Linked DNA regions of Homo sapiens: all the other regions are linked to region 2. The links come from fine-mapping of genetic effects on gene expression. A gene starts in region 2. Each other region holds a variant in brackets. All regions are shown on one strand. Distances are between the middles of the regions. Region 1 has its middle 33 kb from the start of RNF216. Region 2 holds the start of RNF216 (ring finger protein 216). Region 3 has its middle 22 kb from the start of RNF216. Region 4 overlaps RNF216 (ring finger protein 216).

Region 1 (8,105 bases), 34 kb before region 2:
GCAGGAGGACTGCTTGAACCCAGAAGGTAGAAGTTGCAGTAAGCCAAGATCATGCCACTAATCCCCAGCCTGGGCAACAGAGTGAGACTATCTCAAAAAAATAAAAAAGAAATCACCAGTGATTATTTCTCATAAAAAAAAATCCATGTGGCTCCAAAGAAGTCAGAAAACTAGACTCCCAAATGAGTGCTCTAGCTGGGCCTGGTGGTTCATACCTGTAATCCCAGCACTTTGGGAGGCTACAGTGGGAGGATTGATTGAGCCCAGTTCAAGATCAGCCTGGGCAACATGGCAAGACATCATCTCTAAAAAACGTTTTTCTCATGCCTGTAATCCCAGCACTTTGGGAGGCTGAGACGGGCAGCTCACGAGGTCAGGAGATCGAGACCATCCTGGCTAACATGGTCAAACCCCGTCTCTAATAAAAATACAAAAAATTAGTCAGGCGTGGTGGCAGGCGCCTATAGCCCCAGCTACTCGGGAGGCTGAGGCAGAAAAATGGCGTAAACCTGGAAGGCGGAGCTTGCAGTGAGCCGAGTTCGTGCCCCTGCACTCCAGCCTGGGCGACAGAGCAAGATTCCGTATCAAAATTTTTTTAAAATTAGCCGGGCATGCTGGCATGCACCTGTACTCCCAGCTACTGCAGAGGCTGAGATGGGAGGACTGCTTGAGACTAGGACGTCAAAGCACTACAACGAGCCATGATCATGTCACTGCGCTCCAGTCTGGGTAACAGAGCAAGACACTGTCTCAAAACAAAACAAAACAAAACAAAAAAACTGCTCTACCATCCCTAGAGCAGGTATGGTTCAAGATGGCCAGGTCTGTATTTCAGCCAGCAGTAAGAGGGGAAAAGGAAGGGACAGAATGCCCCCCACCCCAATTTTTTTTTTTTTTTTTTTGAGATGGAGTCTCGCTCTGTCGCCCAGTCTAGAATGCAGTGGTGGGATCTCCACTCACTGCAACCTCCACCTCCTGGGGTCAAGCAATTCTCCTGCTTCAGCCTCCTGAGTAGCTGGGATTACAAGCACCTGCCACCATGTCTGGCTGATTTTTGTATTTTTAAGCAGAAACAGGGTTTCACCATGTTGGCCAGGCTGGACTCGAACTCCTGACCTCAAGTGATCTGCCCCCCTTAGCTTCACAAAGTGCTGGGATTACAGACATGAGCCACCATACCCGGCCCAAATGCCCTTTCTTTTAAGAGCTTGATTCAGAAAAGGCACAAGTCACTTCTGCTCATATCCCATTGAACAGATCTCAGTTACGTGGCCACCTCCATCTACAAAGAAGGCTGGAAAATGGAGTCTCCATTCTGGGAGGGCAACTCCTAGCTAAAAATTGAAGGCTCTATTGCATTAGAAGGAGAGAACAGATATTGGGAAATAACCAGCGGTCTCCACCACAGGGAAAAGATAGGACGCAGGGAACGCCGGGGGGACAGGTGAAACAGACAAGTGATATTAACCAGGAGTTCCCTCCCACCTGAGTTAAACTACGCATAGTGTTGAAGTTAATGTTTTCATTTTCTCCCATTTCACCAAAGGATAAACCTTTGCTGTTCTAGGGATAGGAAAAGAAATAATAAGCAGTAATAGCTGCCTGGATATGCCGCATAGGGCTGGAGACAAAGGACTCTAATTGCCCTGCTTATTGGCTGGGCACGGTGGCTCACGCCTGTAATCCCAACACATTGGGAGGCTGACGCAGACCTCACTTGAGGTCAAGAGTTCAAAAACCAGCCTGGCCAACATGGTGAAACCTTGTCTCTACCAAAAACAAAGAAAAATAAGCCAAGTGTGGTGGCAGACACCTGTAACCCCACCTACTTGGGAGGCCAAGACAGGAGAATTGCTTGAACCTGGGAGGTACAGGTTGCACAGTGAGCCAAGATTGTGCCACTGCACTGCAGCCTGGGTGACAGAGCAAGACTTCATCTCAAAAAAAATAAATAATAAATAAATAATAAAAATACAAAAGTTAGTGGGGCGTGGTGGTGCATGCCTGTTGTCCCAGCTACTCAGGAGGCTGAGGCAGGAGAATTGCTTGAACCCAGGAGGCGGAGGTTACAGTGAGTCAAGATCGCACCACTGCAGTCCACAGAGTGAGACTCTGCCTCAAAAAAAAAAAAAAAAAAAAAAAAAAAAAAATATATATATATATATATATATATATCCCTGCTTATAGATGTTCATTTTTTCCATTTATTTGAAAAGCAGAATAAACGTATGTTGTAACAAATCAATGTAAACATAAAGTATCATCCTGCTACTATCAATCATATAAAGTCATACTAAGACATTCACATGCAATATGATTATTAATATCGTTGGTCCCACCTACTGGGGAGGCTGAGGCAGGAGAATCACTTGAACTTGGGAGGCGGAGGATGCAGTGAGCTGAGATTGTGCCACTGCACTCCAGCTGGAGTGACAGAGCGAGACTCCATCTCAAAAACAAACAAAAACACCCTTAGGTAATGATCACCAATGACTGCTGACATCTTTTTGAAAAAAATAAGAAAACCAGACACCCTGTCCATCTACATGGCTGTATACAACATCACCTATAAGTAATCCTGGAAAAAAAAAAGAACTTGAGTCTAAGCCTCTTGATCTAATTAACAAATTACAGGACATACAAGGCAGTAGAAAAATGTCAAATGACACCACAATGAGACAATCTGCAAAATCCAGGGTGTAACAAATTCTACACTTTTTTCTACAAATAAAATGCCAACAGAGAGAGGGAGGGAGGAAAGGAAGAGAGGGAGAAGGAATCTATGGATCACAAGAGAATGAAGGAAAATATCACTAGTGATATATGGATCCTATTATCTAAACAAGAGCTCACTGAACTTTCCAATTCATGTGCTTCCTCTTGTTAACCGCACTGGCTCATTCCGCGTCTTCTGTGCCATCCTGTTTCCACGTCTCCACTGGGAAAAAAATAACAGGAAAAATGGCATTTTATCAGGGGCATGTACTAGGAAGATGCTTAACATTGTCTCCATGGTTTGATATTTTATATTATATATAACGAATATATATATATTTATAATATAAAATATATTTGTATGTAAAATATAAAAATATAGATATATAAAATATAAATATAAAATAGGTCAGGCACGGTGGCTCACACCTGTAATCTCAGCACTTTGAGAGGCCAAGGTGGGTGGATCACCTGAGATCAGGAGTTCGAGACCAGCCTGGCCAACATGGTGAAACCCCCGTCTCTACTAAAAATACAAAATTTACCTGGGTGTGGTGGCAGGTGCCTATAATCCCAGCTACTCTGGAGGCTGAGGCAGGAGAATCGCTTGACTCAGGAGGTGGAGGCTGCAGCAAGCTGAGATAGCGCCATTGCACTCTAGCCTGGGTGACAGAGTTAAGACTCTGCCTCAGAAAAAAAAAATTATATATGTAATGTAAAATGTTATTTATATGTAATATATTGCATAATATATTTTATATGTAATATAAATGTTTATATATATTACATATATTGGCTCACTGCAACCTCTGCCTCCCAGGTTGTAGTGATTCTCCTGCCTCAGCCTCCCAAGTAGCTGGGACTACAGGCACACACCACCACACCCAGCAGATTTTCATATTTATATAAAAACATATAAATACAAAGCTATTTATATATAAATTACAAAATATATTTTATATGATATCGTTTGTAT[TATATA/A]TTTTATATAATATGGTTTGTATTATATACTATAATACTGTATATTATATAAAATGTTTTATATTATAAAGATCTTTACATCATAGTTCATATTATAAATATATAGTTTATGTCATATGTAATATGTAACGGATAATATCTTTTTTTTTTTTTGAGACAGTCTTGCTGTCACCCAGGCTAGAGTACAGTGGCGCAGTCTCCGCTCACTGCAAGCTCCGCCTCCCGGGTTCACACCATTCTCCTGCCTCAGCCTCCTGAGTAGCTGGGACTACAGGCACCCACCACCACCCCTGGCTAATTTTTTGTATTTTTAGTAGCGACGGGGCTGCACCGTTTAGCCAGGATGGTCTTGATCTGACCTCGTGATCTGCCTGCCTCGGCCTCCTAAAGTGCTGGGATTACAGGTAGAAGCCACTGTGCCCAGCCACATTTTTTTTTTTTTTTGAGAGTCTTGCTCTGTCACCCAGGCTGGAGTAAAGTGGGGCAATCTGGGCTCCCTGCAGCCTCTGCCTCCCAGGTTCAAGTGATCTCCCCACCTCAGCCTCCCAAATAGCTAGCATTACAGACATGTATCACCATGCCTGGCTAATTTTTTTTGTTTGAGACAGAGTCTCGCTCTGTCACCCAGGCTGGAGTGCAGTGGGGCGATCTTGGCTCATTGCAACCTCTGCCTCCCAGGTTCTAGTGATTCTCCTGCCTCAGCCTCCCGAGTATCTGGGACTATAGGTGCACATCACCACATCCAGCTAATTTTTGTATTTTTAGTAGAGATGAGGTTTCACCATGTTGGCCAGGATGGTCTCCATCTCTTGACCTGGCAATCTGCCCGCCTCGGCCTCCCGAAGTACTGGGATTACAAGCGTGAGCCACTGTGCCTGGCCATTTTTTTTGTATTTTTAGTAGGGAAGGGGTTTCACCATGTTGTCCAGGCTGGTCTTGAACTCCTGACCTCGAGTGATCTGTGTACCTCAGCCTCGCAAAATGCTAGGATTACAGGTGTGAGCCATCGCACTGGGCCTAAAATACATATTATATATTACATATAAATAATACATTTTTATATTCCAGTGTTTTCCTTTTCACTTTTTAGAAGCAGGGTCTCACTCTGTTGCTGAGGCTGGAGTGCAGTGGCGCGATCATAGCTCACTGCACCCTCGACTTTCTGGACTCAAGAGATCCTCCCACCTCAGCCTACCAAGTATATCTGGGACTACAGGCGCACACCACCATGCCTGGCTAATTTTTGTATCTTTTGTAGAGGCAAGGTTTCACTCTGTTGCCCAGGCTGGTCTTACACTCCAGGCTTCAAGCGATCCTCCTGCCTCAGACTCCCGAAGTGCTAGGACTGCGGGTGTGAGCCACCAAGATGAATTTCTTGATTCCTCCAAAAATATAAGCCATGGAGGCTCCTGACTGCCTGGTGGCTGCCAATGTTTTTTCAACAACCCCCTGCCCTTTTTTTTTTTTTTTTTTTAATCATAAGGCAGCCTCCTGTCTCCTCTGCAGAGCACCTGTTTCACCTCTGTATACAGGACACCTCCAGTGAGCTTTGTCCCCTCATGGTAGCCCTGAGAGAGCAACTAACCCTGTTCTGCACCTGGGGAAACTGTAGCCCAGATTGTTTAGCCAATGTTCAGTAAGTTAGTGGCCAGGTAGTATATTAGTCCGTTCTCGCACTGCTATAAAGAAATACCCTTCGGCCAGGCACAGTGGCTTACGCCTGTAATCCCAGCACTTCGGGAGGCCGAGGCAGGTGGATCACGAGGTCAGGAGAGAGAGACCATCCTGGTTAACGCAGTGAAACCCCGTCTCCACTAAAAATACAAAAAAATTAGCCGGGCGTGGTGGTGGGCACCTGTAGTCCCCAGCTACTCAGGAGGCTGAGGCAGGTGAATGGCATGAACCTGGGAGTCGGAGCTTGCAGTGAGCTGAGATCGCGCCACTGCACTCCAGCCTGGGCAACAGAGCAAGACTCAGTCTCAAAAAAGAAAGAAATACTCAGTGGCTGACGGCTATAATCCCAGCACTTTGGGAGGCCAAGTCAGGCAGATCACTTGAGGTCAGGGGTTCGAGACCAGCCTGGCTAACATGGTGAAACCCCATCTCTACTACAAATACAAAAATTAGCCAGACATGGTGGCAAGTACCTGTGGTCCCAGCTACTCTGGAGGCTGAGGCAAGAGACTCGCTTGAACCCAGGAGGCGGAGGTTGCAGTGAGCTGAGATCACACCACTGCACTCCAGCCTAGGCAACAGAGTGAGACTCGGACTCAAAAACAAAAACAAAAAAGAATAAATAAACAAACCCAAGACTGGGTAATTTATGAAGGAAAGAGGTTTAATTGACTCACAGTTCCACATTGCTGGGAAGGCCTCAGGAAAATTACTGTCATGGTGAAAGGCAAAGGAGAAGCAGGCACCTTCTCAGGAAGCAGGATGGAGTGAGTGCAAGCAGGGGAAATACCAGTGCATATAAAACCATCGGACACCTCAAGACTCACTATCACGAGAGCAGAATGGGGGAAACTGCCCCCACGATCCGTTTACCTCCACCTGTCCCACTCTTGACACGTGGGGATTATGGGATTACAATTCAAGATGAGATTCTAGGTGGGGACCCAAACCCTAACCATACCAGGTAGGGACTAGAAATCTGCTTCCCAAACTCCTACTCCAATGCTATGCTCTCTGGACACTGTGTCCCAGTCCTGGAAGGAAAGAGAACAAGAAACTCAGATGGCCTGGACTGAGGGCAAAGGAGGGTGAGGCTGGCACTGACATCCTCAGAGGCTCCTGCAGGGTCGTGTGTATGAAACCCAAGCCCAAGCTTCATGCCCTGCCCCCCAAAAGCAGGGAATGCACACTGTAGCAAATGCTAAGCCAGCTCTCTAGCACGTGAAACAGTCTTGTTCAGAGACAGGAGAGGCTGCTCTCCAGTGGTTCTTCAAGGCTGCTTTCTCCCTGCCTAGTCTGAAGGATTGCTTTCTCTTTTCTGCATTTAGTATTTTTGGACTGCGGTTGACCTCGGCTAACTGACTGTTAGTAAGAGGGGAAACCACTGTAGTTCAAAACTCCAGTCTTGGTGGGGCGCTGTGGCTCAGGCCTGCAATCCCAGCACTTTGGGAGGCTGAGGTGGGAGGAGCACTTGAAGCCAGGAGTTCCAGACCAGCCTGTGCAACACAGCGACATCCCATCTCTACAAAAAATGTAAAGATTAGCCAGGCATGGTGATGTATGCCTGTTGTCCCAGCTGATTGGGAGGCTGAGGTGGGAGGATTGCTTGAGCAAACCTCCTCTAAACCATGAGTTCAAGACTGCGGTCAGCTATGATTGCACCACTGCACTCCAGCCTGTGCAACAGAGTGAGACTCTGTCTTAAAAGTAAATAGGCTGGGCATGGTGGCTCACGCCTGTAATCCTAGCAGTTTGGGAGGCTGAGGCAGGAAGATCATCACATTCCCACTTCTGTCCTCATCGCCCATCCCTCACCTCCCTTCTCATCCTAGAAGAGCTAAAGGATTGCTTTTATTGATGAACTGTACATTGTATGCGAACACACAGGACCTCAGCGTGCAGTTTGATGGGTTTAGACACCCATGTAAATGAAACACAATCAGGATACAGCAGTGTCCATGCTCCCAGAAAGCTCCTTCATGTCTCTTTTCACTCAATCCCCTTCCCCTTGGACTGCAAATAGGAAAGGTTCTGATACGTCCCAGAGCACTCAAACTTTCTGGGTCTCTCTGCCAGCCAGCGGTTCTGGGCAAGCCATCTACCCATCAGACCATCAGGCCCCTGCGAAACAGCAGTCACCGGCCACTTCCCTGAAGACACAAGTAATCATGCTGTCCACTCTGCTAGCTGTCACCATGAGGTCGCCCAGGTCAAGCAGCAAGTATACTTTTTTTTAAAAAAACTTCCTCTGGCCGGGTGCGATGGTTCACGCCCGTAATCCCGGCACTTTGGGAGGCTGAGGCAGGTGGATCACCTGAGGTCAGGAGTTCCAGCACTGGCCAACATGGTGAAAATAAAAAAAATTAGCTGGGCTTGGTGGCACACGCCTGTAATCCCAGCTACTTGGGAGACTGAGGCAGGAGAATCGCTTCAACCTGGGAGCCAGAGGCTGCAGGGAGCTGAGATCACGCCATTGTACTCCAGTCTGGACAACAGAGTGAGACTCCATCTGAAAAAAAAAAAGAGAAAGAAAGAAAGAAAGAAAAGGCAAACTTCCTCTGAAACTTTTCACACAAAGCTTATTCTTCCTTCTCTGTCTGCACCCAAGACCTCACGCTCAGTTTATCCATGGCTAAAATCTATGGCAAAGCCAGCCCTGATCAAGAGGGTGAGGATGCCTGTAATTACCTTAGCAACAGAACATGCTGTGCATTTGAATCACATCATCTCATCCC
Region 2 (8,105 bases):
AAGAGTGAAACTCCGTCTCCAAAAAAAAAAAAAAAAAAAAAAGGCCAGAGGCTTCAAAAGTAACCAGAATGATTCCAGTTCAAAAGTAACCAGAATGATTCCAGTTCAAAAGTAACCAGAATGATTCCAGACAACCTAGAAGGAGGGAGTAGCTTCCTCTCGCCCTCACTGGGAAAAATGCAGAGATATGATAGTTGTCTTTATGACTCCGAAAATGCTTAAGACAAGAAGAGCATGTAAACAAATAACTCCTATGAGAGCTTCTCAATTCACACATGATCCCATTTCATCCTTGCAAGAACACCGGGCAATAGATAATATCTTAAAATTCCCATTTTACAAATAAAAAATTCCCCGCCAGACATGGCAGTTCACATCTGCCATCCCACCACTTTAGGAGGGCAAGATGGAAGGATCACTTAGAGCCAGGAGTTCGAGACCACCCTGGGCAACAAAGCGAGACTCTGTTTCTATAATTTTTTTTTTTTTTTGAGGCGAAGTCTTGCTGTGTTACCTAGGCTGGGGTGCAGTGGCGCAACCTCGGCTCACTGCAACCTCTGCCTCCTGGGTTAAAGTGATTCTCCTGCCTCAGCCTCCTGTGTAGCTGGGACTAGAGGCATGTGTCACCACACCTGGCTATCTATTAATGTTTTTTTAAATTAAACTTCAAAATAAAGGCCTGGCATGGTGGCTTACACCTGTAATCCCAGCACTTTGGGCTGAGACAGGCAGATCACCTGAGGTGAGGAGTTTGAGACCAGCATGGCCAACATGGTGAAACCCCGTCTCTACAAAAAATATTTTAAAAATTAGCCGGGTGTGATGGTGGGTGCCTGTAGTCCCAGCTACTTGGGAGACTGAGCCAGGAGAATCGCTTGAACCTGGGAGGCAGAGGTTCCAGTGAGGCAAGATCGTGCCACTGCACTCCAGCCTGGGCGATGGAAGGAGACACCGTCTCAAAAATAAATAAATAAAGACAAAAATAAAGTCTCTCTTCTCATTGCCATCACGTCTGAGTCAGAGTCTCCAAAAAGCCTGAACAAATAAAAAATTCCAGACTCAGGCCAGGTGCGGTGGCTCATGCCTGTAATTCCAGCACTTTGGGAGGCCAAGGCGGGTGGATCACGAGGTCAGGAGATCGAGACCATCCTGGCTAACACGGCGAAACCCCATCTCTACTAAAAATACAAAAAAAAATTAGCCCTTGGTGGCGGGCGCCTGTAGTCCCAGCTACTCGGGAGGCTGAGGCAGGAGAACGGCGTGAGCCCAGGAGGCGGAGCTTGCAGTGAACCAAGATCGCGCCACCGCACTCCAGACTGGGTGGCACAGCAAGACTTCATCTCAAAAAAAAAAAAAAAAAAAGCTAGACTCAGAGAGGTTACTCGATCGCACCTGCCTTGGGTGTGACACCAACCACAGAGGGGTTCAGTGGTCCGGAAAGAACCTTGCACTCCTGCTAAGATCACCAAGCTCTCCTTCCAATACTGCTTTCTTCCAACATCTCAAAGGGCTTATGAGGACCATCCTAAGAAGAAGGCTGTAACTGACAGCGATTATCCACCTCCCCCAAGAGGACCAGCATGGAGGATAAGCTCATCAAGGCCAATGCCTTTGTTTTACCTTCCAGGTGATTCCAGGATCTCATCTCAGGTAAGTATCTATCTTAAACTCTCTCTCCTGTTCACCCTCTAATGTCTCCCATGCACTGCACCCTCTAACTCAGGGCCTGACATCTGTAAGATCCCTAGATCCTCGTCCTGTTCTGTAAGCAGCCCTTCAATTTCTACTTCACTGAAACATGACTATTCCCTCAGGACACTGTTCCCCAAAGCACTATGAGTAGTGGTCTTTTTCTGTCCCATGCAAGCCCCCATAAGCCACACTCTACTGTCTTAGAGAAGGAACACTCATTGCCGCATCAAGACTATTGTTCCTCTCATTTCCCTGTTTTGTTTTTGTTTGCTTCTTTTGAGACAGGCTGTTGTTCTGTCATCCAGGCTGGAGTGCAGCAGTGCAATCATAGCTCACAGCAGCCTCGGACTCCTGGGCTCAAACAATCCTCTGGCCGGGTTTAGTGGCTCGCTCCTGTAATTCCAGCACTTTGGTAGGCCGAGGTGGGTAGATTACCTGAGGTCAGGAGTTCAAGACCAGCCTGGCCAACATGGTGAAACCCTGTCTCTACTGAAAATACGAAAATTAGCCGGGCGTGGTGGCACATGCTTGTAATCCCAGCTACTCAGGAGGCTGAGGCAGGAGAATCGCTTGAGCCCAGAAGGTGGAGGTTGCAGTGAGCCAAGATCGTGCCACCGCACTCCAGCCTGGCTGACAGAGTGAGATTCTGTCCAAAAAAACAAAACAAACAAAACAAAACAAAACAAAAAAATCCTCCCACCTCAGTCTCCTGAGTAGCTGGGACTATAGGTGCGCACCACCATGCCCGGCTAATTTTTATTTTTGTAAAGATGGGGTCTTACTCTATTGCCCAGGATCGTCTCAAACTCCTGGCTTCAAGCCATCCTCCCACCTCCATTTCCCAAAATGTTCGGATTCCAGGTATAAGCCACTATGCCCAGCCCAGACTCATTTATCTAATTACTGACTTGATATCTCTACTTGAAGGTGTACTTGGCAATTTTTTTTTTTTTGAGACACAGTCTCACTCTGTTACCCAGGCTGAAGTGCAGTGGCATAATCACTGCACTACAACCTCCCCCTCCTCGGTTCAAGCAATTCTTGTGCCTCGGCCTCCCGAGTAGCTCGGATTACAGGCACGCACCACCATGCCCAGCTAATTTTTGTATTTTTAGTAGAGACGGGGTTTCACCATGGTGGCCAGGCTGGTCTCGAACTCCTGACCTCAAGTGATCTGCCTGCCTCGGCCTCCCAATGTGCTGGGATTACAGGCGTGAACCACCACGCCTGGCCAGCAATTATTTTAAGAGTTGGGGTCTTGCTATTTTGCTAAGGCTGGTCTTGAACTCCTGGCCTCAAGCGATCCTCCTGCCTTGGCCTTCCAAAGCGCGGGGATTATGGACATGAGCCACTGTGCCCAGCAGGAGCAGTATTTTAGTCAGTTATTCACTTGCTCACTAAAACCTAAACTTCCTGAGGCCAGGAACACATTTTACTTTTTTTTTTTTTCGAGATGGAGGGTTGCTCTGTTGCCCAGGCTGGAGTGCAGGGGCGCCATGTTGGCTCACTACAACCTCCGCCTCCCAGGTTCAAGTGATTTTCCCGCCTCAGCCTCCTGAGTAGCTGGGATTACAGGCATCCGCCACCATGCCTGGCTAATTTTTTTATTTTTGGTAGAGACGGGTTTCACCATGTTGGCCAGGCTGGTCTCCAACGTCTGACCTCAAGTGATCCACCCGCCTTGGCCTCCCAAAGTGCTGGGATTACAGGCGTGAGCCACTGTGCCCAGCCATGGGACCCACTTTACTCTTAATTTCCCCAATTCCTAGAACAGTGTGTGGCCCACAGGAAATCCGCAGAATATATTTGCAGAATGAATGAATGACTTGCCAAACGAATTAGGGCAAATCAGTAGATATCGAGTAAACATCCACAACCACCTGCCCCATACCCTTTTCAGCTCTGGGGAGATGGTGGCTCCTTGTGGGGTCGGATATGGGGGTCTCCTTTCCTTTCACCCTCCTGCCTCGTGGGGGAGTCAAGTCTCCGCAGGCGGAGAGCCCGGATGCAGGCGCGACTAGGCGGCCCTCTCTATGGTGAGCCCCCCGGTCCCTCCTCCGCAGTACCCGGAGTGCCTCTATGGTTCTTCCTGTCCTTAGTCGGGAGGGGGCGCTGTGCGCAGGCGCGAGGTGACGCCGCGGCAGGGCCGGAAGGAGTGCAGCGGCTGCCACGGAGCTCGCAGCTGCGGCTTCTGAGGAGTAAGCGGCGCGGTAGCGAAGGCCGCCGAACCTGCCTGGCTAGCCGGCGACTTGAGTGACGAGTGAGTGTCGGCTGCGGGGCGCGCTCGAGCTCCTGGGCGGGTCTGTGAGGCGACGCGGCCTCTCTGAGGGGCGCCTCTGTGGAGCTCCGGGGGTGGGGGCGGGGGCGCGGGCCGTGAGGGCCGCCGAGCTGAGGGGCGCGGGCCGAGGCCCGGGCGGGATCGGGCCAAGGGGCTGGGCTGGGCGTCTCGAGCCCGGTGCGGTGGCGAGGCTGGAGCGACAAAGGCGCTGAGCGGCCGGGTGGCCCCCTCTCGCCACTTCGCGAAGTTTCGCGGGCCGGCCCCTCGGGTCTGCTGCGCGAGGGCAACAGCCCGGGAGACCGCGCTTCCCTCCCCCGGGCCCGAGGCCGCCGCGGAGGCGGTGTCCGTGCACCCGAGCGCGGCCTGGAGGAGCGGCGGGAGGCGGGCCGTGCCTGTGAACCCCAGCCCAGGCGGGCGGCGTTTTTCCTCCTCTTCCCTCACATCTGGAGCGCGTGTTCCGCGAAAGTTGGCGACTGTCACCCGGCACTCGCGAGGGCGCCGCAAGTGCGTCAAACCCTTCTGCGGGGCGCTGGGGGCTGGCCCGGCTCGGGTGTCCGGGCGCTGGGCAGCGAGCGAGGCCGCTGTCCCCGCGTCGAGGTGGTTCTGCTCCCGGTGGAACAGGACCAGGGATCCAAGACTCTGGGCCACTTGCAACCAACCCTGGAGCGTGCGCGGCGTGCGGGTTACAGAAATTTCTGACAAATCCGACAGGGCTCTGTAAATCCCTAAGGGCCTGGGTAGCAGCTGTCCTAGGTACTTAGATCGTGCAAAGAGAACGTTCTTTTTTCTTTTACTTTTTTTTTTTTCTCCTTTTCTTTGAGACGGAGTCTTGCTCTGTTGCCCAGGCTGGAGTGCAGTGGCGCGATCCCGGCTCACTGCAAGCTCTGCCTCCCGGATTCAAGCGATTTTCCTGCCTCAGCCTCACAGGGATTGCCTCAGCTGGGATTACAGGCATTTGCCACCACGTCCAGCTAATTTTTGTATTTTTAGTAGAGACGGGATTTCTCCGTGTTGGCCAGGCTGGTCTCTAACGTCTGACCTCAGGTGATCCCTCCGCCTCGGCCTCCCAAAGTGCTACAGTCTTTTCAAAAGACGTTTCAGATATGTTCTCCGGGACCCTCGGGCCCTTCAGTAAGAAGCGCCCTGGCTGAAAACCCACACGTTCACCTACAGAAGAAGCACTGTGACGTAGAGGGTGAGCAGAGCAGAGGGCCTCACAGTGGCCCTCACATGCACCTGGCTCCAGCCTGGCCAGGTCATTTTGCCCTGGTGGGCCTGTGCCTCAAAAATGGGGTTTCTTCCCTTGTGAGGAAGACCCATGAATTAGTAACGGAATTGCCAGGAATGCTAAAAACTATCTAAATGCCATGTATTGTTTTCAAGCTGTTACTCCTGGAAGGGGCTGGGTTGGCATTGTTTTAGAGGTTAGGAGCCAAACATCAGCTCATCTATTCTCCAGCTGTTGTTTGTCCTCCATCTTCCTGCAATAGTCAGGCACAGGGTCTTATAAAAATGGGTTTGTGCTGCTGTATGTTTCGGTGGGTACCTTTGTTTACTGAATGGGATGTAGGTGGGGGACCAGAGCATATCCGCGTCCCTCGGAAACAGTGGCGTTTTAGATGTAGTATGTCCCGTCAGCTCCTCTCTGCCCCACCCACCCCAGCCCATTCATTGAGCATTTTTTTTTTTTTTTTGAGGCGGAGTCTGGCTGTATTTCCCAGGCTAAAGTGCAGTGGTGCCATCTCTGCCCACTGCACCCTCCGCCTGCCAGCTTCAAGTAATTCTCCTGCCTCAGCCTCCCGAGTAGCTGGAATTACAGGCGCGCACCACCACGCTCGGCTAACTTTTTTTTTTTTTTTTTTTTTTAAGAGACGGAGTCTAGCTGTGCTGCCCAACTCCTGGGTTTAAGTGACCCTCAGCCTCCCAAAGCACAAGAATTACAGGCTTTAGCCACCGTGCTCTGCCAGAACATTCTTTACGCGCTGAGAAGGGAGAGAAGCGGGAAGATTCTATGAAACATCTCAATTTAGTCGGCTTGCTTTAAGGAAGAAGGCTAATACATGGCCTGGCTTTGCCTTGGTTTTGTATTTCATAATTTATTGCGCCTGGGGTGTGGGGAGTAGTGGTGGATTTGAGGAAATGCCTGGAGAGTCTGGGCCAGATTTTGGACCCCCTGGCAAACCTCATTCGAGGCTTTAGATTTTTACCCTGATTAGAGCAGCAGCAGCTAATAAAAGAGAACTCCTGAAGCCCCTGTGGAGAAATCTGATAAAGAAGGGTTAGGTGTGAGTGAGGCAGATCGAAAGTTGATGAATAGGATAGTTGAGAGAGCTGGTATTTGCTGATTCTACTACCAGCTACTATTTAATGTGTTTACAAAATTCTAGGCATTGCTATATTCTAGCTCTTTAGAGACATAATTCATTCTCATACCTGATATCATTATATTTGCATTATTGTTAAAGATAATAGAACATAGTTGGGAATGGTGTGGCTCACGCCCGTAATCCCAGCACTTTGGGAGGCCGAGGCGGGCAGATCACCTAAGGTCAGGAGTTCGAGACCAGCCTGGCCAACATGGTGAAACCCCGTCTCTACTAAAAATACAAAAATTAGCCAGGTGTGATGGCGTGCGCCTGTAATCCCAGCTACTGGGGAGGCTGAGGCAGGAGAATCACATGAACTCGGGAGGCGGAGGTTGCAGTGATCCGAGATTGTGCCACTGCACTCCAGCCTGGGTGACAGAGCGAGACTCCGTCTCAAAAATAATAATAATTTTAAAAAAAGAAACTGAGGTGCTGAAAAATATCTAGTCCCAAAACTTGTAAGGGTCAGCGTGGAACTTGAACTCAGTTTGGACCCAGAGTTCATGCCACTAATTATCCTTCTATAATTAGTGAGTGCTATTTATTCTGAAAGTACATCTACTATTGAAGATCATCTACTGTGCCATCCGATATGCTATGTCCTGGGGCTTTGGGATCAAGTGACACTTTGGTTCTGCCTTCTTGGAACTTAAGTTTTAGCAGAGGAGACCAAAATTACACATAGTTTCCTAAATAAGTATATTAAAGTATTGTTGGAAGTACTTTGAAGAAATGAGGTACGTTGTGTGATTGAACCAGGGAGGAACATCTAGGGGATAATCAGGAACAATTTTTCTCTGAGGAGAAAGCAAAGAACCGAACAATGAATAGAGTTAATTTGGTCCAAGAGGCAGTGAAGAAGAGTAGTTTAGCTGGGGAAGAGCCTGCAGTGGAAGGAAGGAGCAAGTCATGGAACTGAACCATTGTTACTACTGAATGGTGAATGCGGGGGGAAAAGGTATGAGGTAAGGCCCGCTATGTCAGCAAGGTCAGGTGATGGTAGCGTTTTGTAGGCCATGGTAAGGATTTCGGTTTCACCATGGTGAGATTTGTGGTTTAAAAGAAATAACTCAAATGCCGTATGAAAACATGTCAAGGGATGGAGCCTGCAAGGCAGTACTTGGGCTAGAAGCAGAAGCATGTCCTTTGGTCACAGAAGATTCAGTTCTAAAAAGATCGTTGAAAACGTTGATTTTACCCTCCACACATGAGGATGTACTTACTTATCTGTCCTAGTTTCTAAACTAATTTTCATTGGACAGTTGAAGAAAATCTTGATGTTTTATGTTAAATTGTTTAGCCCGCCCACTGAAGATTTTGAGTTTAATTTTTGATTTAAAACCTTTCCTATTGTAAAAATACACAGATAATAGGATTCTTAGAGCTGTTAAACTCTAGACTAATTGTTTGCATATTTATATCCATAATGATGGATGTTATTTTACCATATTTTGTCCACATATTAAAGTTAACACAATTTTCGTTTTCTTTCTCTGAACTCATCATCTGCTTTGTTCTTCCTTAATAGCATCACCATCCTGTGGTCACCTGATCTCAGCGTCTAGGTCAACTTTGATTCCTTTCTTCTTGCCCTGATGGCCAGTGACATACACAGATCCCATCGACTCTAACTCTGCAGTCAGTGTCTTGTATTCTTCTCCTCCCCCTAGGTACTGTTGGCTCTTGTTTCCTGGCACCGGTTGTCTCCTACATGCCATCTTACACATTGCAGCCAGGTTGATTTTTCTAAAGCACAGCTGTCATTGCAT
Region 3 (8,105 bases), 22 kb before region 2:
AGCCTGGCGTGGTGGCGGGCGCCTGTGGTCCCAGCTACTCAGGAGGCTGAGGCAGGAGAATGGCGTGAACCTGGGAGAAGGAGCTTGCAGTGAGCTGAGATAGCCACACTGCACTCCAGCCTGGGCGACAAAGTGAGACTCCGTCTCAAGAAAAAAAGATCTGGCTGTGCACAATGGCTCATGCTCAGAATCCCAGTATTTTGGGAGGTTGAGGTGGAAGGATTGCTTGAGCTCAAGAGTTTAAGACCAGCCTGAGCAATATAGTGAGACCTCATCTTTTTTAAAAAATAGTAATTTAAAACAAAGATTAAAACCTGCTCAGAGGAGCATTATAGAAGGCTTCTCCTCCCACCACACCTTACCACCACTCTCCCCCAGGTCTATCTATAGCAGCTCCTTTTACCCAATAAATTATGTCCAGTTATCGGGAAAAAAATTACAAGGCATAATAAAATGGAAAAAACATCCAGAAGCTTTGTAGATGATGTTTTTCTAAAAAGTCAGCCGGGCACGGTGGCTCACGCCTCTCATCTCAGCACTTTGGGAGGCCAAGGCAGGCGGATCACCTGAGGTCGGGAGTTCGAAACCAGCCTGGCCAACATGGTGAAACCCGTCTCTACTAAAAAAATACAAAAATTAGTCAGGCATGGCGGTGTGCACCTGTGGTCCCAGCTACTCGGGAGGCTGAGGCAGGAGAATCATTTGAACCCAGGAGGCGGAGGTTGCAGTGAGCAAAGATGGCACCACTGCACTCCAGCCTGGGTGACAGAGCGAGATGCCGTCTCTGAATAAATAAATAAATAAAGAGGTGGAGAAAGCCATACTGTGATAATACTAAACAAAGCAGACTTCAAAGCAAAGAAAGTTGTCAGAGCTTAAGAGGCATTACAGCCAGGTGTTCCATTCACATCGATAATCCCAGCACTTTAGGAAACCAAGGTGGTTGGGGGGATTGCTTGAGCCCAGGAGTTTGTGATCAACCTGGGCAACATAGCAAGACCCTGTCTCTACAATAAATAATAATAAAAAAAATCAGCTGGTCATGGTGGTGCATACCTGTAGTCCCAGCTACTTAGGAGACCAAAACTGGAGGATCACTTGATCCTGAGAGCTCCAGACTTCAGTGAGTCATGGTCACACCACTGTACTCCAGCCTGGGTGACAGAATGAGACCCTGTGTCCAAAAAAAAAGGGGGGGGCATTACAGAATGATAAAGGAGTCAATTCTCCAAAAACACATAATTAATCCCTAATGTGTATGCACCTAACAGAAGCATCAAAATACATGAGGTTAGAAGTGCTGGAACTAGGCCGGGCACAGTGGCTCACGCCTGGAATCCCAGCACTTTGGGAGGCCGAGAAGGGTGGATCACCTGAGGGCAGGAGTTCAAGACCAGCCTGGCCAACATGGTGAAACCCCATCTCTACTAAAAATACAAAAAATTAGCCGGGAGTGGTGGCAGGCACCTGTAATCCCAGCTACTTGGAAGGCTGAGGCAGGAGAATCGCTTCAACCAGGGAGGTGGAAGTTGCAGTGAGCTGAGATTGCACCATCGTACTCCAGCCAGGGCAACGAATGAAATTCTGTCTCAAAAAAAAAAAAAAAAGGGTGGAATGGCACAGAGAAATTGATAAAGTATGATGGTACTTCAAGACTTACTGTAAAGCTACGGTAATCAGGACAGTGTGATATTAGTGAAAAAATAGATAAATAGATCAATGAGCCAGGTGCAGTGTCTCACGCCTGTAATCCCAGCACTTTGGGAGGCCAAGGCAGGTGGTTCACTTAAGGTCAGGAGAATGAGACCACCCTGGACAACATGGCGAAACACTGTCTCTTAAAAAACAAAATAGATCAATTGAATAGAACAGAGATCTCAGAAACAGACCCACATAAATAGAGTCAAATGACCTTTGACAGAAGAGCAAAGGCAATACAATGAGCAAAGACAAAGACGGTCTTTTTAACAAATGTTGCTGAACAACTGGATGGACATCCACATGCAAACAACTGAGTCCAGACTCTGACCTTACACACTTCACAGAATTAATTCAGATGGATCAGAGACCTAAATGTAAAGTTCAAAACCATAAAACTTTTAGAAGGTAACACAGGAGAAAATCTAGATAACTTCAGGTTTGGCAATGACTTTTTAGATACAACGCCAAAGGTGGGATTCATGAAAGAAAGAATTGGGCTGCACGCAGTGGCTCACGCCTGTCATCCGAGCACTTTGGGAGGCTGAGGTGGACAGATAACCAGGGGTCGGGGGTTCGAGACCAGCCTGACCAACAAGGAGAAACCCCATCTCTACTAAAAATACAAAATTAGCCAGGTGTGCCGGAACATGCCTGTAATCCCAGCTACTCGGGAGGCTGAGGCAGAAGAATCGCTTAAACCTGGGAACGGAGGTTGCAGTGAGCGGAGATAGTGCCATTGCACTCCAGCCTGGGAAATGAGTGAAATTCCATCTCAAAAAAAAAAAAAAAAAAAAAAAAAAAAGAATTGCTAAGTTGGACTTCATTGAATTAAAAAATTTCTTCTTTCTGAAAGATGTTGTCAAGAGAATGAAAAGACAAGCCACAGACTGGGAGAAAATATTTGCTAAAGACATAGCTGATAAAGAAGGACTGTTAACCAAAATATACAAAGAACTCTTAAAACTCAACAACAGGAAAACAACCTGATTTTTAAATGGGCCAAAAAACCTTAAGAGACATCTTTCCAAAGATACACAGGTGGCAAACATGCATATGAGAAGATGCTTCATTTCGTATGTCATTGGGAAAATGCAAATTAAAACAATGATATCACTACAAACCTATTAGGATGACAAAAATCCAGAACATGGCAGGGCATGGTGGCTCATGCCTGTAATCCCAGCACTTTGGGAGGCCGAGGCGGACGGATCACCTGAGGTCAGGAGTTTGAGACCAGCCTGGCCAACATGGTGAAACCCCATCTCTACTAAACATACAAAAATTAGCTGGGCATGGTGGCAGGCGCCTGTAATCCCACTACTTGGGAGGCTGAGGCAGGAGAATTGCTTGAATCCGGAAGGCAGAGGTTGCAGTGAGCCGAGATCGCGCCATTGCACTCCAGCCTGGGGGATAAGAGTGAGACTTCGTCTCAAAAAAAAAAAAAATCCAGGACACTTGGCTGGGCGTGGTGACGCATACCCATAGTCCCAGCTCCTCAGAAGGCTGAGGCGGGAGGATCAATTGAGCCCAGGACGTTAGGGCTGCAGTGAGCTATGATGGCACCACTGCTCTCCAGCCTGGGTGACAGAGCGAGACTGTCTCAGTGGAAAAAAAAAATTAATGCTGTATGATTCCAACTATATTACATTCAGAAAAGGCCCAACTATGGAGACAGTAAAAGGATCCGTTGCTAGGGTCTGGAAACAAAAGGTTGCCAGGGACAACCTTTTGTCCCTGGGACGGATGCATGAAGGGAGGGATGCATGAAGAGGCAGAGCACGGAGGATTTTTCGGGCAGGGAAACGCCTCTGAGAGAGCTCTAAGAGTGGATGCATGTTCTGACACATTTATCCAAGCCCATGACATGCACCACACCAAGAGGGACCCTAATGCAAACTGTGGACTTTGGGTGAAAATGATGTCAATATAGGTTCCCTGATTGTAACAAATGTACCACTTTGGTGGAAGATGATAATGGGAGAGGCTATTAGCACGGGCAGGGAACATGTGAGAACTCTCTGTACCTTTCGCTCAATGTTGCTACGAATCTAAAACTGGCCTAAAAAAGTCAAGTCTATTAAAAAAAAAAAGACGCAGTGAGCATTGGGAAGAAAGGGACAGAGCACATGCCTTCCTCATGGAAATCATGCAAACATATATTAAAAAAAAAAGACACAGTGAGCATTGGGAAGAAAGGGACAGAGCACATGCCTTCCTCATGGAAATCATGCAAACATATATTAAAAAAAAAAAGACACAGTGAGCATTGGGAAGAAAGGGACAGAGCACATGCCTTCCTCATGGAAATCATGCAAACATATATTAAAAAAAAAAAGACGCAGTGAGCATTGGGAAGAAAGGGACAGAGCACATGCCTTCCTCATGGAAATCATGCAAACATATCTTCTGAAGAAGACCCCCCCTTTTTTTTTTTTTTTTTTGAGATGGAGTTTTGCTCTTTCACCCAGACTGGAGTGCAGTGGCATCATCTTGACTCACTGCAACCTTCAACCCCCAGGTTCAAGCTATTCTCCAGCCTCAGCCTCCCGAGTAGATGGGGTTATAGGCGCCCACCACTACGCCTGGCTAATTTTGATATTTTTTAGTAGAGACAGGGTTTCGCCACATTGGTCAGGCTGTTCTTGAACTCCTGACCTCAGGTGATCCCACCTGCCTCAGCCTCCCAAAGTGCTGGGATTACAAGCGTGAGCCACCGCAGCTGGCCAGACCCTACTTTTGAGTGGGGTCTTCTGCAGATGAGCCTGAGAAGGCCAGCAGGATTAGGTGACAAGGAAGAAGAGAGATCTTTGCATCTTCAGATGTAGGGGAGCACCGCCCATGGCAAATCTGAACATCAGCAGCTCCGGGCACCATAAAGTGGGCACAGGAAGATCAAAAGAGACTGAAGAATCTTTTTTTTTTTTTTTTTGAGATGGAGTCTAGTTCTGTCGCCCGGGCTGGAATAGAGTGACATGCTCTCAGCTCACTGCAACCTCCACCTCCCGAGTTCAAGCAATTCTCCTGTCTCAGCCTCCTGAACAGCTGGGATTACAGGCATGCATCACCACACCGGCTAATTTCTGTATTTTTAGTAGAGATGGGGTTTCACAATGTTGGCCAGGTT[G/A]GTCTCAAACTCCTGGCCTCAAGTGATCAGCCTGCCACAGCCTCCCAGAGTGCTGGGATTACAAGCTTGAGCGACCATGCCCAGCCCAAAAGAGGCTGAAGAATCTTAACTTCTAAATTTTATTGATTTAATTACTGTTTGAGTCAGGGTCTCACTCTGTCTCCCAGGCTAGAGTGCAGTGGTGCAATCATAGCTCACTGTAGCCTCCAACTCCTGACCTCAATCAATCCTCCTGCCTTAGCCTCCCAAAGTGCTGCACTTACAAGTGTGAACCACTGTGCCCAGCCCTTAATTTTTTAAAAAAGCTTATAAATCTCAGAAAATATTTCTTTCCGGCCAGGCGTGGTGGCTCACACTTGTAAGCCCAGTACTTTGGGAGGTGGAGGCGGGCGGATCACCAGAGGTCAGGAGTTCAAGACCGGCCTGGCCAACATGGCAAAACCCCGTCTCTACTAAAAACATACAAAAAAATTAGCCGGGCATGGTGGTGGGCACCTGTAATCCCAGCTACCTGGGAGGCTGAGGCACGAGAATCGCTTGAACCCGGGAGGCAGAGGTTGCAGTGAGCCAAGATCGCATCATTGCACTCCAGCCTGGGCAACAAGAGCGAAACTCCATCTCCAAAAAAAAAAAAAAAAAGGAAATTATTTATTTCCAACAGGAGAGAGCCTAGCACTTATAGCAAAGTGTTGAGCATGGATTCGATTACATAGCATTGGATCATGGCGGGTAACTACAAGAGAAGCAACTACAGGGTTGTGAGGGGATGAAAGAGCCAGAAGGAACCGATCTCAAGATGCGTATGAGAGCCTTAATCCACCGGGCACGGTGACTCATGGCTGTAATCCCAGTACTTTGGGTGGCTGCGGCAGACAGCTCACCTGAGGTCAGGAGTTCAAGATCAGCATGGCCAACATGGTAAAACCCCATCTCTACTAAAAACTACGTTGGGAGGCCAAAGCAGGCGGATCACAAGGTCACGAAATCAAGACCATCCTGGCCAACATGGTGAAACCCCATCTCTACTAAAAATACAAAAATTAGCTGGGCGTGGTAGCACACACTGTAGTCCCAGCTACTTGGGAGGCTAAGGAGGGAGAATCACTTGAACCCGGGAGGTGGAGGTTGCACTGAGCCGAGACGGCGCCACTGCACTCCAGCCTGGCAAAAAAACTACTCTATCTCAAAAACAAAACAAAACAAAACTACAAAAATTAGCTGGGCGTGGTGGCATGCACCTGTAATCCCAGCTACTCAGGAGGCTGAGGCAGGAGAATCGCTTGACCCCAGGAGCCGGAGGTTGCCGTGAGCTGAGATCACGCCACTACACTCCAGCCTGAGCAACAAGAGCGAAACTCTGTCTCCAAAAAAAAAAAAAAAAAAAAAAAAAAAGGAGCTTAAAACCAATAGCCAAGGGAGTTACAGTCACCAGATATTTAGTTCTCTATAGAAATTAAAGATAACATCTTGGGCCTGGTACGGTGGCACACACCTGTATCTCCATCACTTTAGGAGGCCGAGGCGAGCGGACCGCTTGAGCTCAGGGGTTTGAGACCAGCCTGGAAAACATAGCAAGACCCCTGCCTGCACTAAAAATACAAAAAATTAGCCAGGCGTGGTGGCACATGCATGTGGTCTCAGCTACTCGGGAGGCTGAAGTGGGACAATCACCTGAGTCCAGGAAGTGGAGGCTGCAGTGGGCAGATTGTGCCACTGCACTCCAGCAGCTGGGAGAAGAGAGTGAGACCCCATCCCCCAAAAAAAAAAAAAAAAAATCAATGAGAGGAAACAAGGACCGACTTTCATGGGGTCCAGATGCCTGGCACAGTGAGGCCAACCACCCACACCAAGGTTTGCAGTGAGAAAAAAGAGGGCATTTATTTGCAGGGCGCCACGCAAGGAGAGTCGAGCAGCTCATGTTTACATCCAGAACTCCCTGCTGGCTTGCAGGTAGGCGTCTTTAAAGGTAAGGAGGCAGAGGCAGGGCGCAGTGGCTCACGCCTGTAATCCCAGCACTCGAGGCGGGTGGATCACAAGGTCAGGAGATCAAGACCACAGTGAAACCCCGTATCTACTTAAAAAAAAAAAAAATACAAAAAATTAGCCAGGCATGGTGGCGTGCGCCTGTAGTACCAGCTACTCGGGAGGCTGAGGCAGGAGAATAGCGTGAATCCAGGAGGCGGAGCTTGCAGTGAGCCGAGATCACGCCACCGCACTCCAGTCTGGGTGATAGAGTAAAACTCTGTCTCAAAAAAAAAAAAAAAAAAAAAACAGAAGATAAGGAGGCAGAGGTTACGGCAAAGTCATAAATCAGTATGGAGGCTATACGTTGGTTTGGCCCTAAAAGGTGGGGTATCTTAAAGTGGGGGCTTACAGGTCATAGGTAGATTCAAAGATTTTTTTTTTTTCTAATTGGTTAAGGAAGAGAAGCTTTGTTTAAAAATGTGGAGTTGGCGGGCGCAATGGCTCACACCTGTAATCCCAGCACTTTACGAAGCCAAGGGGGGGCGCAGACCACCTGAGGTCAGGAGTTCAGGACCAGCCTGGCAACATGATAAAACCCCATCTCTACTAAAAGTACAAGAATTAGGTAGGATGCGGTGGCGGGTACCTGTAATCTCAGCTACTTGGGAGGCTGAGGCAGGAGAAAAGCTAGAACCTGGGAGGCAGAAGTTGCAGTGGGTCAAGATCACAGCACAGCACTCCAGCCTGGGCGACACAGCAAGACTCTGTCTCAAAAAAACAAAACAAAACAAAAGGACAGCACTCGGAGAGCTTCAATGCTGAACATGTGGAGATGCCGGGAGGGTGGTGTACCCAGAGAGGGCATGGAAGCTCCACCCCTTCCCACAAAACTTGCCCCTTCGGCCTCGGCATCTGGCCATTCCTCTGCATTTTTCGTAATGCCCCTTATAGTAAACTGGTAAACAGGCCGGCCATGGTGGCTCACGCCTATAATCCCAGCACGTTGGGAGGCTGAGGCGGGCGGATTACTTGAGGCCAGGAGTTCAAGACAAACCTGGCCAACATAGCAAAACCCCGTCTCTACTAAAAATACAAAAATTAGCCAGGCGTGGTAGCAGGTGCCTGTAATCCCAGCTACTTGGGAGGCTGAGGCAGGAGAATCGCTGGAGCCCAGGAGGTTGGTTGCAGTGAACCGAGATCACACCTCTGCACTCCAGCCTGGGCGACAGAGCAAGACTCCGTCTCAAAAAAAAACCACAAAAATTGCTTTGTGTTAAGTATAGAGTGGTGTGAGAGTAGAAAACACACTTTGGTC
Region 4 (8,105 bases), 89 kb after region 2:
GGGCTGGATTTGTCTGGAGCTGGTGGCTGCTTTCTTGTCCTTCCGTGCCTCCTGGGAGTCAGGGATCAAGGCCGTGCTGGGTTGTGCTGAGAGCCACAGCCCCTCCTTCAAGTGGGGTACCCTCCCTTCCCAGCCTAGTCCTACATCCTTGTTGTGTGAGGAAATGAAGTCTGTTCCTTGGATGCGTTCTGACGGGAAACATGTTTTCTGTGGCACCTCTGCTTAGTCTTTCAGTGCAACACAAACAGCCTTTTGATACCTTGTTTTGTAAAAAGTACATTTCCACAATGGGGCTTGACACTGTTCATAAATAAACACATCCGTTTACAGGCAAAGCAAGGGAAGAACACATAAGGGAACAGTTTGACCAGGGGTTTTGCTTTTCCCTCTGTGAATGCCTGGTGTGCACCATCCATCCGAGGATGACTAGGGGAGAACACTATTCTGTGGCTGCCAAAACCACAACAAATGACAACTTTCCATTCTGTCATCTCTCTCGGCACCACTGCTAGCAAGCAATTCATTTTTCTACCATAAAAGGGCAATAGAACTTGTCTATAGCTGCGGTGTCTTCTGCTCTGCAGAGAGAGAGCAGGAGACCGGCAGGGAGAGGCACTCTCAGCAGTAGGCGCAACCGTGCTCACCCCGTGCCTAACAGCCTTGCTTAGTCCGGGCTCCGAGGCAGCAGCAGCCATAAGAAAAAACAGGAGAGGAAGGCGATGTGGCGCTTCTGCCGGGCCCTCAGACTGGGGAGTGTGAGGTCAGGACAGGCTGGCGTGTCGTTTTCGTCTCTGTGGCTGCTGGACGTGTGAATGTGTGGTTCAAACCTTGGTACAAGTTGCTGCACTGGGTCTGCGCAGGTGGTTTTGTATATTGGTATTTGGTACTCTTGACTTGCAGTTGTAGATGTTAGATTTATAAGCCGGACCCAGGAGGTCATATAACCCAGACATGCTTGTTGTACAGATGAAGAACCGTGGATAGGTTAAGTGCTAACTTCGTGTAGCTTGAAGTCATTGAACTTCTTGGCTATATATGAACTTTGGGTTCAGGGGTAGTTCCCTAACCCATCTGTGTCCCCATTGGCCCATTAGTGTATTTTTTGGCTCAGTTAAAGTTGAGCCACAGAAGCCTTAACTAATAGAAATACAGTTCTTAGTTGGTGGATTTGTATGTCAGTTAACCAGGGTCTTTGGAAAGTATATTGTCTTTTCTATAAAATGCTTGGGTCCTTTAGATGATTATAAATAAATGTTCAAAATCAAAACAGGAGTAGTTAGTAGACAAATGCTTAGCTATTTTGACAACACCTAGAACACTTTGAGAGAGTGGCTGTAAAATTTCTGCCCAGTGCACCCTGGCAGACCAGGAGACCAGCCCAACACAAGCTACGCAGCTACAGAGAATGTACTTTCCATAGGCTGAAGGGCATGGCCACCATACACATCTCTGCTCCAGGGCAGGCAGGTCCTCAAATTGCGCCACAAGTGGGCCTCATCCTTTGGCTTGGAGCCCTTGAAGGTTTTCCTATAAACAAGAACTGAGATTTGTTTTGTCGTTTAAACTTACCTTAATTCTGACTGTCTGATCTCATAGCAGATGTTGGAACTGAACTAAGCACATTGCCAAGGGAATAAAAATTGTGTCCAAGAATCTTGCTGATCTGGAAGTTTTGGAGGAAAGCAGGGATTTCAAGGTCAAATGTTATTACCCAGATAGTGCTCGTGGTCAGAATAGATTCTGAGCTCATTGGATCTGAATCAAAAGTTAACTCAGAAGTCATTCCTTAAAGAGAATATCATTGAGTAGCAGTGGCGGAAGCAAGCTCAGTGTGAATGATTCAAGTACTGCATACCTAGACCTTGTTTTGAAGCTGAAAGACTTGTTTGAAAACTGTTCCAGCAAATAAAGAAATTGAGTAGGCCGTCCTAAAATGGAAAGTTTACAAAATGCCCTTTTTAGTAAGACCTTTCTGGATTCTTCTTTTCTCAATAGTGTAAAACTGACTATCTTGATCTATCAAAGAGCTAAGTGGTATAATTTCCTTGGCACTTTCCAAGACCTTTACTGCCTTTGGAATAAACCCATGATGCCTGGGAGCATTCGTCTCACTGTGCTTCTCTCATGTTCTTTGCTTGTGGAAATGTTGGAAGCCTTTGTTTTTTTGGTCAACAACAGCAAGTGAATTCCATCTTATAGAACAGTTATTAATTTTCGTTGTGTCATTTTTAAGGCTGATTTCTTAAGCAAATAGCATCTCCTTGTTGGCCAGAGAGTCTCTACCCGCGTCCATCTCTGTCTTTGCATGCCTGGGCTGCCTGGCCATGGGTGACCAGCTTTAGAGACATCAGCCTTCTTGCTTCCTAATTTGGTCACAGTATGCTTCAGGCAGTCTTGCCTAACTTTAGAACAACACAAGCACAGGGAGCAGCTTTGATATAGCAAAGGGGAATTTCCTCTTATCAAAAGACCTACAGTTCCCTTCTTACTTCCTCTAAAAAGAGGAATTGACACTTGGGGAGGTTGTAGCTTGCTCTGAAGTTCCCTCTTTAAGCTTGGCTTCTTCATGCCGGCTTCTTCCTAGCTAGTTCCTGCTCTTTCCTTCCTCAAATGTCTTGGAGCTTCTTAGCATTAAAGGAGTTTAATTTTATTCTTAAGGAAATCCAATGCAATACCCATCAGCAGGGAACAATTTCAGTACATTTTGGTACCTCAGTACAGTGGAGGTCCATACCGGGGGGTCAGCATCCATACTGAGGTTCAGCAGACTTTTTCTGTAAACATCCATACCAGGGGTCAGCAGACTTTTTCTGTAAAAGGCAAGGTAGTAAATATTTCAGGCTTTGCGGACCATATGGTATCTATCCCAGCTACCTAACTCTGCCTTTATAGCGTGAAAGTAACCACAGACAATATGTAAACAAATGAATGTGGCTGTGTCCCAGTATAATTATATTTACAAAAATTGGCAGAGGGCCAGATTGGCCAGTGAGCTGTAGTTTGCCAACCCGTAGCATATACCATAGCGTTTAAAAGAATGACGTGGAATCCCGTTGTGCAAATATGGAGCTGTCTCCAAGATATTAAGTGAAAAAAGCAAGACGTAGAACAATGGGTGCAATATGCCCACAATTGTGTCTTAAATGGGAGGAGGAAGAGATGCTTGCTGACACAGACATAAAATCTATTTGGAAGGATAGATAAGAAATGGGTAGCAGTGAATCGCTTTTGAGGATGCTCACCAAGGGTTAAGGGAGGAGTGTGCATGTGTCACATTGTATACCCATTGTCATTAACTTAGTCATGTCTGAACATGAGCAAAAGAATTTTTGTTTTGTTTGTATTAAGAGAACTTGAAAAATAGAAATGTGATTATTAAAATATGCTTGTGTATTTTCAAACTCCAAGCTATTTCTTCTGGTGTGTTGGAAGGCTTATTTTACCACCTAAAAAGGAGTGCCTTGCCTCGGGCTGGAGGCGAGGGATGGCGTTTTGTGGTGTGTGGAAGGAGCTGGAACTGAGCAGCTCTGCCTTTCT[C/T]CTCGCTCGCCTTCTGCACGGGCTCTGCTTGCAGCACAAGCTCTGGCACTGTCGGACAGGATACAGCCAGTGAGAAACCTTGGACCAGAAGTCAGGGCCCCGCGGGAATTAGTATGGCTTTTAGTAGTTAGAATTCAAGACTGTTTCCAACTGCTGCCTTTTCCCACAGAGTATGTCTGACTAACAAGGATGGGTTCTGATTCACCCGGCGTTGCTATGACCGCTTTTTAAAAATGTCTGCTTTGGGTTGTGAAATCAGCAAATAAAGTTGTTACTTTCCTAGTATGTGTAACAGTTAGCTTTTGGTATGTGAGGAACAAGTAAAAGGCTTAGTGGCAAATCCTTGTCTGCTTAGAAGGCAGTGTACATATAAACAACTAAAAAATTCCCATTTGGCTGCCAGCCTCGATTCATAGTTCCCTCTTCCAGCTCCCAAGCAAATATTTTTCAAATAGCCGTGCTAAGCCTTTTCCAGGCATGATTTGCGGGCTTACTTGCTGTCATTCTATTTTTCAGCAAAACTCTGGGTAGGAATGTCGGAAATTATACCTTTTGAAATCCCTCCTTGAAAACATGGAGATTTGTAGGTATGCAGAGGCAATTGTAACAATATAAAGTATTGTATCTCTTCCACTAGAGTAGGAGGGCCTGACTGTCGGCCCCTGGGGTCTGTCTTTCATTACTTGTCTTGACTTCCGCTGTAAAAGCATTAAGTGGGAAGGTAGCAGTTCTGCTGAACAAGCAGACATTGCCTTCTGTAAGAGAAGTTATTTAAAACATCGAAAATATGTTTGAAAGATATTGGTGTAGTTTCCTCTGACCTCAATTTCATACACTAGTAACTCTCCGGTGTCTAGAGTTAGTACTGATGGACTCCCTGCCGGGTGGCCAGAACCATGTGTCCATGCCAGATAGAAGATTCTACTTCACTTGATTGAGGACGCTAAGAAGTTGTGCTTTGCCATACATGTTGCCCCTAAGGAGAAGCTGGGCATTTTAAAGAATAGACTTAAAACTAACACACATACTCTGTTTTTCTCACACACACATTCCCCCTCTCCCCTTCTCTTCTACACACACCAGCACTGCCTTCCCCACCCCCACCATAGCTCTCTCCATTACTGCCTTTAACCTTGAAACCTCTCTTGTACACTTACGCATTCATCTGTTCCTGCTCTTGTATCATTAATGGGCCTGGAGCAATCCAGCCAGGAGCAATCCAGCCAGAACAGGAACACTGACATTACTAATTACTGCTTATAACTGAGAAGTAAGGAGCAGTGAGTAAAGTGGGTCACAAGACAGTGTCCTAGCAGTCAAATGCTGCCGTCGGCCCGAGTGGCGAGGTGTCAGGTGGCTTGTCTCCCCTTCACCATGGGTAGACCTGGCAGAGCACCCTGTTGGCATGAGCAGAAGTGCTGTCACGTTGATCACCCAGGCTCACCGTCTACACACACGGTTAGAGAAATGGGTGTGCTTCTGTCGGAACTTAAAAACATGGCAGATCAACCCGTGAGAACAGAGTTCTTTGCACGGCTGTGTGAGCTGGGAAGAGACGACAGGCAGAAAAGGTGCTGCAGGGGGTGTGTGGAGGTGGAGCTTCAGCCTCTCCTGGCTGTGTGCTGGATAAGCCCTGAACCACAGGGTCCAAGTTGACTCATCTGTAGGTTGTCTTCAGCCCCCAAATCGCAATTCCATGATGAATGTGTACATTTTACACATGTGCGTATGTGTTATTAAGTGTCAGGCTGGTGTGGCAGAGCTGTCCTGGCAGAACATGCGTGTGTACATCCCTGCAGGCTGTCGGGGCATGAGCTCTAGTGTGGGCTGTATTGCAGGAGCATCAGCAGAGAAGGGCGAGATCTTCACTCTACCTCTCACTAGCCCTGGGCACTTCCCACTGCCTTTGTGGACTTCTGTTTGCTCTTCTGTAGAATGGGATAACAGTGCCAGTCCTGCTTACTATTTAGGGTTATGTGATGCTTGCAGATGTACAGGGAAAGCACTGCTGATGGGAGCTGCTGAAGTTTCTAGGGGAGGTGAAGGTGGCGCCTCCTCCCCTGGTCTAAGTGGTAGATGGTGCAGGGAGAGGAGAATTTCATTCTGTGGCAGCAGCTGATAGATTCCAGGTCTTTAATACTACCTGGGAAACCTTAACAAAGCAGTCAGTCACCAAAACTGACCTAGCTTCTGAGCATTGCTAACCATGCTTTTAGAGAAACAGGAAGTAAAAAGGATCTTTAAAATCTTTTTTTTTTTTTTTTGAGATGGAATTTCACTCTTGTTGCCCAGGCTAGAGTGCAATGGCGCGATCTTGGCTCACTGCAACCTCCGCTTCCTGTGTGCAAGAGATTCTCCTGCCTCAGCCTCCCAAGTAGCTGGGATTACAGGTGTGCACCACCATGCCTGGCTAATTTTTTGTATTTTTAGTAGAGACAGGGTTTCACCATGGCCAGGCTGGTCTTAAACTCCTGACCTCAGGTGATCCGCCCGCCTAAGCCTCCCAGAGTGCTGGGATTACAGGCATGAGCCACCCACCGCGCCTGGCCATAAAACCTTTAAAGATGTAAGTAAAATATAATACAGGTGAACTCGGCAAATAAGGGGGGTTACCTGCCCTCCTCTTCTCTTCTCTTTTCTGTTCTTTTTTTTTTTTTGTTTGAGACAGAGTCACCCAGGCTGGAATGCAGTGGCGCAATCTTGGCTCACTGCAACCCCCCGCCTCCTGGATTCAAGTGATTCTCCTGCCTCAGCCTCCCAAGTGGCTGGAATAACACCCAGCTAATTTTTTTGCATTTTTAGTAGAGACGGAATTTTGCCACGCAGGCCAGGCTTGTCTTGAACTCCTAACCTTAGGTGATCCACCTGCCTCGGCCTCCCCAAAGTGCTAGGATTACAGGCGTGAGCCACCATGCCTGGCCTTTGTACTATTTATTAAACTCTGCATATCTAAATGATTTTACTCAAGTCTATCATGTAATTACAGCCCTAAAACTACATTTCTTATGCTTTAAAAACTTGTAGGAAGTCCAAGAGAAAAGGAAAACTACTTGACTACAAGCCTAGGGTTTTTTGTTTTTTGTTTTTTTTTAGAAAATGGCCTCCAGAAAGTGGGAAATTATTGATCACTTGACAACAGAAGGGATGTGGGTTTCTAGGCGCCCTGCCTCCTCGGCTTTGGATGTTTTGCCTTTCACTTTTCTTCTTCTTTCTTTTTTTTTTTTTTTTTAATACTACAAATATGGTTATTGTTGAGAAAGTCTTGGAGTGAGTCATGGTTACAAAAACTGAGCGTAACTTCTGTCACTTTTCCTATACCTCACAAACTAGCCAAAATGCTGCCATATCAGCTTCTGGAGCCAGGCCTGCCCTTTGCCCCCGTCAAGCATCCACCTCCCCAGACCCTTAGCGCTGCACTCCAGGACCCCCTTCCACCTCCCTCCTGTGCTTTTGGTTCTGCATATTGGCTCACAAGGCACTGATGGTGGTGCCATATAATAGGATATCATTTTGTTTCACAGAATCGGCAGCCTGTTCTTTTATGAGAGAGGAAGCCACAGCAGAACCAAGTAAGATGCCAGGCTTCTCAGATCCACTTGAAGAAAAAGGAGTATTTCCTTTACCTAGTTTTGTGAATATTTTTCCCGCTTCTCTCATTCAGTCAACATTTGAGTTCAGACTTAAACTTTATATTGAAGAACACAGTGCTTTGCACAGTAATGTTAGTAGCTGTTATCATCATTTGGGAATTCGTATCATATTATTAAGAGCAACTCTTTCACTAATAAGAAAGCTAAATAAACTGAGAATTGCCCAATCCTAAGTCACCCACAGTTTTACAGATATCCCAGTCCAAAAAAAAATAAGACAAGCCTGATAATAAGTATGGATAAGGAAGTCTCCAGAAGATACACTGTCAGATGTGTAAAGCAAGGTAAGGTGCGCAGAGTGAGCCTTCTGCTCACTTTGTATAAATGTAAAGGATAAAGCTGGTAAATACATGCGCCTTTAACTTTTTTCTTCAAAACCTAAGCATGAAACACAAACTGCTACAGGAAGGCTTGACAAGAGGGGAGTTTTTGCTTTTTGTTTATAATAACTTCTGTATTTCTTAGCACATTCAGTATGTGTTCTTCTTTTCACTAGTGTCAACAGAGATACGAACATTTAAATTTTTTTAAAAAGCTTTAGGATAGAAAAGAGGTGTAGCTGGGCAATTTCCTTTGACATGCGGTTTGTCTGAAATAGAGCAGCCCCTTGTTTATGATTTCCAGATATGTGAGTCTGTTTTTTTATGTACAGGTTTTACCTTGGCTCAATTTACTGTCTAGTTACATTTTAACAGCTTTCTACTCTGCTTTTTCTCTCAATATAAAAGTAATCGAAAGAAGACTAATCATTTTTGAAATGCTTTCAGTTTTACACAGTTCTGTGCGTGAAAGCCTGGTGTCCCCACCAGCCAACTGTGGGAATCCAGGACATAGAGCAGGAATAGCTGCTGCTTATTTACTGCTCTAATTACCTCTTCGGTTCCATTTGCGGTCGCTAGTTCCTTCCATCAAGCAAAG

The links. PIP is the estimated chance that this variant, and not a neighbour inherited with it, causes the effect.
Region 1: its variant is fine-mapped to the expression of RNF216 in whole blood (TOPMed, PIP 0.93).
Region 3: its variant is fine-mapped to the expression of RNF216 in whole blood (TOPMed, PIP 0.93).
Region 4: its variant is fine-mapped to the expression of RNF216 in whole blood (TOPMed, PIP 0.98).

What each region holds. Positions count from the first base shown.
Region 1 is chr7:5,811,031-5,819,135 of GRCh38, reverse strand. No RefSeq gene overlaps it. Among named protein-coding and RNA genes, the nearest start is that of RNF216, 33 kb to the right of the region's middle. The variant TATATA/A (reference allele first, on the strand shown) is at 3,692.
Region 2 is chr7:5,777,388-5,785,492 of GRCh38, reverse strand. RNF216 (ring finger protein 216) reads left to right here and starts at 3,830. Exons shown (of 17, transcript NM_207111.4): 1 at 3,830-3,952. RefSeq lists a silencer at 4,032-4,421.
Region 3 is chr7:5,799,200-5,807,304 of GRCh38, reverse strand. No RefSeq gene overlaps it. Among named protein-coding and RNA genes, the nearest start is that of RNF216, 22 kb to the right of the region's middle. The variant G/A (reference allele first, on the strand shown) is at 4,826.
Region 4 is chr7:5,688,024-5,696,128 of GRCh38, reverse strand. The region is part of intron 13 of RNF216 (ring finger protein 216); the gene reads left to right. Among named protein-coding and RNA genes, the nearest start is that of RNF216-IT1, 12 kb to the right of the region's middle. RefSeq lists enhancers at 1-44, 674-913. The variant C/T (reference allele first, on the strand shown) is at 3,538.